2 linked regions of the Homo sapiens genome follow. The protein of the gene in region 2 purifies or fractionates together with the protein of the main gene of each other region. This does not show direct contact. Each region holds a gene or a part of one and is shown on either strand. Other genes may lie near its edges.

Region 1 (2,554 bases), on a different chromosome or scaffold from region 2:
AGATGTACCAGGCAATGAACACGCCAGGGAATTTCTGGCTCATGCACCAACTAAAGGACTTTGGATGCCACTGGGGAAAGAAGTCAAAGTTATGCAGTGTGAGTGTGGGAGAGTTTCCCTAATCCATGCAACTTACATGCCTCAATTTACAAAGAGTGTTTACTTCTTTTATTTAACTTGTTCTCATCACAGCCCTCTTACAGCCAAGGCACGTTCTCCATCTTCTAGATAAGGAAGCATCCACCCCACCCCCCACCACCGTGCCATGTGAAGAAGAAAGAGGGCTGTCATCTTAAGCCAGGAAGAAAGCTCTCACCACAAACCCACCTTGCTGGGACCCTGATCTCAGATTTCCAACCTACAGAATGAATGAGAAAACCAGTTTCTGTTGTTTAGGCCACCCAGAATACGGCATTTTGTTATGTCAGCCCGAGCTGACTAAGACACCATCTTTCTGCAGGTCCCCTTAGCCTCTCTCCCGTGTTGGATCACCCATTTTCCTGTGTCTTGAGTCTTCTTTATTATCATATTCTCTCCTTATGGTGTAACAAATCCTATGGCTGTTACCTTCAAAATGGGTTTATAGAAGATAAAAATGTTAAGACCTTTACTTTTCTGGAATCGTCTTTAACAGATTTTTAACTACCAGGATATTGAATTCTAATTTAAAAATCAGTTTCCTTGAGAATTTTGATGGGAATGCTTCATTGCCTTGATTATTTGTTAAAAGCAAAGACAACGTGCCTCAGAGTTCAGTATCTATCGGTTTTTCTTCTTTGGGTGGGTTATATTTTCCCAGAGAAGGCTCCCACGTGGAGGGAAAGCCATACTATGAGTGTTCTGGGAGCCGAGTGGAGGGAGTCTGGAAATGTGTCCATCTGCTTTTCATTCATTCGTGTGACCCTTTGTGGCTATTGCAGCAGCTTCCTTCAGACCTACCTGATGTCTCCCTGGTCTCCCTGGCCAGAGACCCTCTGTTTTACCTTTTCCACACATTAAACAACCTTCTACCAGGGTCAGGAAAACAGGGTCTCACTCTGTCACCCGGGCTGGAGTGCAGTGGTGTGATCACAACTTACTGCAGCCTCAACCTCCCAGAATCAGGTGATCTCACATCAGCCTCTGAGATAGCTGGGACTACAGGCATGCGCCACCAGGCTTAGCTAATTTTTTTGTACTTTTGTAGAGATAGGGTTTCACCATGTTGCCTAAGCTAGTCTCGAACTCCTGGCCTCAAGCGATCTACCCGCCTCTGCCTCCCAAAGTGCTAGGATTACAGGTAGGAGCCACTGTGCCCAGCCACCATTAATATTCTAAGAGAACTTGTGATTTTATTTACTTAAAAGTGAGAGTTTTGAACAGACTCAACCTGAGAAAGAAGCTTTTATAGTGTCTAAAATAGTAAATGAGAAGCAGAGATACTTTATGAAAACATTTACTCTGAAAAATATACTGAAACACACTTTAAAAAAAATGTACCTTTTGGGCCGGGCGTGGTGGCTCACGCCTGTAATCCCAGCACTTTGGGAGGCTGAGGCGGGCGGATCACCTGAGGTCAGGAGTTGAAGACCAGCCTGGGCAACATGGCAAAACCCCATCTCTGCTAAAAATACAAAAATTAGCTGGGTGTGGTGGTACGCACCTGTAATCCCAGCTACCCAGGAGGCTGAAATAGAAGAATATCTTGAACCCAGGAGGCAGAGGTTGCAGTGAGCTGAGATCACGCCACTGCACTCCAGCCTGAGCGACAGAGCAGGACTCCATCTCAAAAAAAAAAATTCACCTTTTGAAGTAATTCTCCATTGGATTGCTTCATAAATACTTGGTGATAGAATATTATTCCTAAAGGTATAAGACTAAAGGATGCTTGGGGAAGCAATTAGTTTACCTCTGTTTCTGGGATCTTACATGGCTTGTCCATAATTATATTTTGTTTTAGAATTAGAGTTTAATGAAGAAAAACTTGAATATATTCTGCTGATTCTTTATCTTGAGTAGGTGAAACTGTTATCTTACAGAAATATTTCTCTTTTCGTTTTTAGGTTGGCGTTGCAAACGCTATGGTCACCGAACGGGTGACAAAGAATGCCCTTTCTTTATCAAAGGCAACCAAAAGTTAGAGCAGTTCAGAGTGGTAAGTAAAGTCCAAGAGTGTCAATTTACATTTATCAGAGATAGTGAAAATCAGTGAAGCAGAAAGTCACCAGTGAACTTGAATGGTCACATAAAATACATTCCCAGAAGCCCTTTGACCAAAGTGTGTGCTGTTAACTACATGCTTATTAAATTACATTTGTATGACAAATTAGCTCTTTTACAAAAAAAAGGAATTCTTATTAAAGTGATCTTTGTTTGTAACTTGGAACAGTGATTTTTTTTCTGAAACAGACATTGTTATCTATTCAACCGCACTTTTTAAAATTTACTGTGTAAAAAAGTCATGTTTCATGACTGAAATCAGGGATTTAATTTCCCGGTCTTTAAAGAGTACATGTCTTTAAACTGTAAGATTAAAGTGTCCGTATATTTTTTCTTTAGATGACAGTTATTCCCT
Region 2 (3,500 bases):
ATGACATTTATCTTTTCAGCTGTGTCTTAAATAATTTGTAGATTACTGGTCCATGGGAAACTTAAATTAGTCATGGTCAGCCTCTCTTGCATACTGACATAGAGTCAGGTGTAGTCTCCCGGTTACTGGCAGGGGCCTATGTTGAAGAGTTTATAGAGAAGTTATGCAGTGATGATGATTATCTAATGGCTCTAACTTTGTGCTCTTTTACACTATCCCTTTGATTAAACATATTTATTGACCATTATCTGCCAAGCAATATGTTCCTCTCCAGGGGTAGGAAAGTAAAAATATATTCCTGGATCTTAGGAAGCTTCCAGTTTAGGAACCTAATGATAATTATAAGTACACAAATAAATAAATGGATCAAGTCCACTGATTTTTGTAGTTCCTTCCTATTCTCTGAAGGTCACAGCAGACGTTGTTTGTGTTCATTAATCATTTGTGAAATTGAACATTAGCAGCCCTGGGATAGTCATGTTTTTTGACAAAGTATTAACATTCTTTAGGCTTGCAGGTTTTTCACTGGTATTGTGAAAGGTTTAGACTATGTGGTCACTCCTGTGTCCCACCCACACTGCTCTGAAATTCTCTGTGATCACTTCTTATTGAGAGTATCATAAAATAATGTTAACTAAGGTTTCCCCACAGTATCACTGTGAAGCTTATTATTTCCACTTCTTTGGCCAAATTTTCATTTCAAAAGGTTTTCGTTCTTTAACATCAGATTCCTTCTTTGATTACATAAACATTACTACTTGGAGAAGAAAAGGCAGTTTTCAAAGCACTAAAGAGTGTCATCTTCCATCTCAATGGTGGTAATAGAATAACTCAACATAAGATGTTTGGGCTGTCATTTATATATACACACTGGCAATGATGGCTTTAATTCTTAACAGCATGTTACTCCAAATACCTAGTCTCATAAGACTCATTCAACAGATGTTTTAAAAGTACTATATTTTAACGGCTGGAAATAGTGGCTCACACGTGTAATCCCAGCACTTTGGGAGGCTGAGGCGGGTGGATCACAAGGTCAGGAGTTTAAGACCAGCCTGGCCAAGGTGGTGAAACGCCGTCTCTACTAAAAATACAAAAATTGGCCAGGCGTGGTGGCGGGTGCCTGTAATCCCAGCTACTTGGGAGGCTGAGGCAGAGAATTTTTTGAACCTGGGAGGCAGAGCTTGCAGTGAGCCCAGGTCGCGCCACTGCACTCCAGCCTGGGTGACAGAGTGAGACTCATCTCAAAAAAAAAAAAAAAAAAAAAAGTGCTGTATTTTTCTCAAATGTAACTTCTGACTTATTTGTTTAAAGATGAGTGCAATATAGCTAAGTTGTTTTTAGAGTAAGTAACTGTTTACAGTGTTCCCCTGTGATTCTTTTTTTTAGTTTCAACCCTTCCTTTCCATTTTCATCTTTATTGGCCTTTTCATCTTTTTTTGTCACATCTCATCCTTTGTATCCTCCTTTTGTCCCTTCTCTTCCTTCTTTTTTCTTTTATGCTTCTCTTCTCTTCCCTCCCATTATGTTTTTCTCTTCACTTACCTTCTCTTTTTATCTATCCCTTCTGAGTCCTTCTGATTTACTTTTTTTCCCGTTCATCTTTCTTCTTTCTCATCTCCCATTTCATACTTCTATTTATTTGTCCATTTCACCATCTGTTGAACTACCTATTTATTTACATTTTGTTTTGTTTTGTTTTGGTTTGGTTTGTTTTTTTGTGACACAGTCTCACTCTGTTGCCCAGGCTGGAGTGCCATGGCGTGATCTTGGCCCACCACAACCTCTGCCTCCCGGGTTCAAGTGATTCTCCTGCCTCAGCCTCCCGAGTAGCTGGGACTACAGGCAGGCGCTACCATGCCCGGCTAATTTTTGTGTTTTTTTTTTTTTTTTTTGAGACGGAGTCTCGCTCTGTCGCCCAGGCTGGAGTGCAGTGGCGAGATCTGGGCTCACTGCAAGCTCCGCCTCCCGGGTTCATGCCATTCTCCTGCCTCAGCCTCCCAAGTAGCTGGGACTACAGGCGCCCGCCACTACGCCCGGCTAATTTTTTGTATTTTTAGTAGAGACGGGGTTTCACCGTTTTAGCCGGGATGGTCTCGATCTCTTGACCTCGTGATCCTCCCGCCTCGGCCTCCCAAAGTGCTGGGATTACAGGCGTGAGCCACCGCGCCCGGCCTAATTTTTGTGTTTTTAGTAGGGACGGAGTTTCACTATGTTGGCCTGGCTGGTCTCAAACTCCTGACCTTGTGATCCACCCACCTCGGCCTCCCAAAGTGCTGGGATTACAGGTGTGAGCCACTGCGCCTGGCCTATTTACAGTTCTTTATTTCTGTCTGTCATCTTTATCAGCACAGTTCTCTACTTTGGTATTCTAAAAATCTGTACAAGTAAAATTAGAAGCATATCTCGTTTTATTGTGCTTTGCTTTATGGTACTTTGCAGCAATTGTGTTTTTACTAATTGATGGTTTCTGGCAACACTGCCTTAAGCAAGTCTGTCAGTGCCATTTTTCCAACAGCACATGCTCACTTTGTGTCTCTGTGTCACATTTTGATAATTCTCACAATATTTCAAACTTCATTATTATAATATCTTTTTTTGGTGATCATTGATCTCTGATGTTACTCTTGTAATTTTTTGGGGGTGCTACAAATCATGTGCACATATGACAGTGAACTTAATCTATAAATGTTGTGTGTGTTCTGACTGCTCCACCAACTGGCCATTCCCCTGTGCCTTTCCCACTCCTTGGGCACAGTATTGAAATTAGGCCACTTAATAACTCTACCAGGGCCTTTAAATGTTCAAGGGAATGGAAGAGTTGCATGCCCTCATTTTAAATCAAAAGCTAGAAATGATTAAGCTCAGTGAGGAAGTCATGTTGAAAGCTGAGATAGGCTAAAAGCTAAATCTCTTGTACTAGACAATTATCCAAATTGTGAAAGCAAAGGAAAAGTTGTTGAAGGAAATTAAAAGTGCTACTCCAGTAAACACACACATCATGAGAGAGTAAAATGGCATTGCTGATAGGGAGAAAATCTTATTGGTCTAGAATTCAAGGCTGTTCAATCTGTGGCCTGCAGGCCATATATAGCCCAGGACAGTTTTGAATGCTGCCCAATACAAATTTGTGAACTTTCCTAAAAGATTATTCGATTTTTGTTGCAATTTTTTTTTCTTTTTTTAAGCTCATTGGCTATTGTTGTTAGTGTATTTTATGCGTAGCCCAAGACAATCCTTTTTGGCCCAGGGAAGCCAAAAGATTAGACACCCCTGGATAGATCAAGCCAGCCACAACATTCTCTGCCAAAGCCTAATCCAGAGCAAGACCTTAACTCTCTTCAATTCTGTGAAGGCTGAGAGAGATGAGAAAGCTGGAGGAGAAAGGTATGAAACTAGCAGAGGTTGGTTCCTGAGGTTTAAGAAAAGAAGCTGTCTCCAAAATGTAAATGTGCAAAGTGAAGCAGCAAGTGCTCATGAAGAAGCTGAAGCAAGTTATC

What was found. The genes of interacting proteins can lie anywhere in the genome.
Region 1: the proteins of FAM83B (region 2) and RP9 fractionate together in Homo sapiens (co-fractionation; one large-scale study listed by BioGRID). This does not show direct contact.

What each region holds. Positions count from the first base shown.
Region 1 is NC_000007.14:33,096,851-33,099,404, reverse strand, and holds part of RP9 (retinitis pigmentosa 9 protein), read left to right. Parts: coding exon 1-98; intron 99-2,042; coding exon 2,043-2,134; intron 2,135-2,554. UniProt on the Homo sapiens protein: Is thought to be a target protein for the PIM1 kinase. May play some roles in B-cell proliferation in association with PIM1.
Region 2 is NC_000006.12:54,849,771-54,853,270, forward strand, and holds part of FAM83B (protein FAM83B), read left to right. Parts: intron 1-3,500. UniProt on the Homo sapiens protein: Probable proto-oncogene that functions in the epidermal growth factor receptor/EGFR signaling pathway. Activates both the EGFR itself and downstream RAS/MAPK and PI3K/AKT/TOR signaling cascades.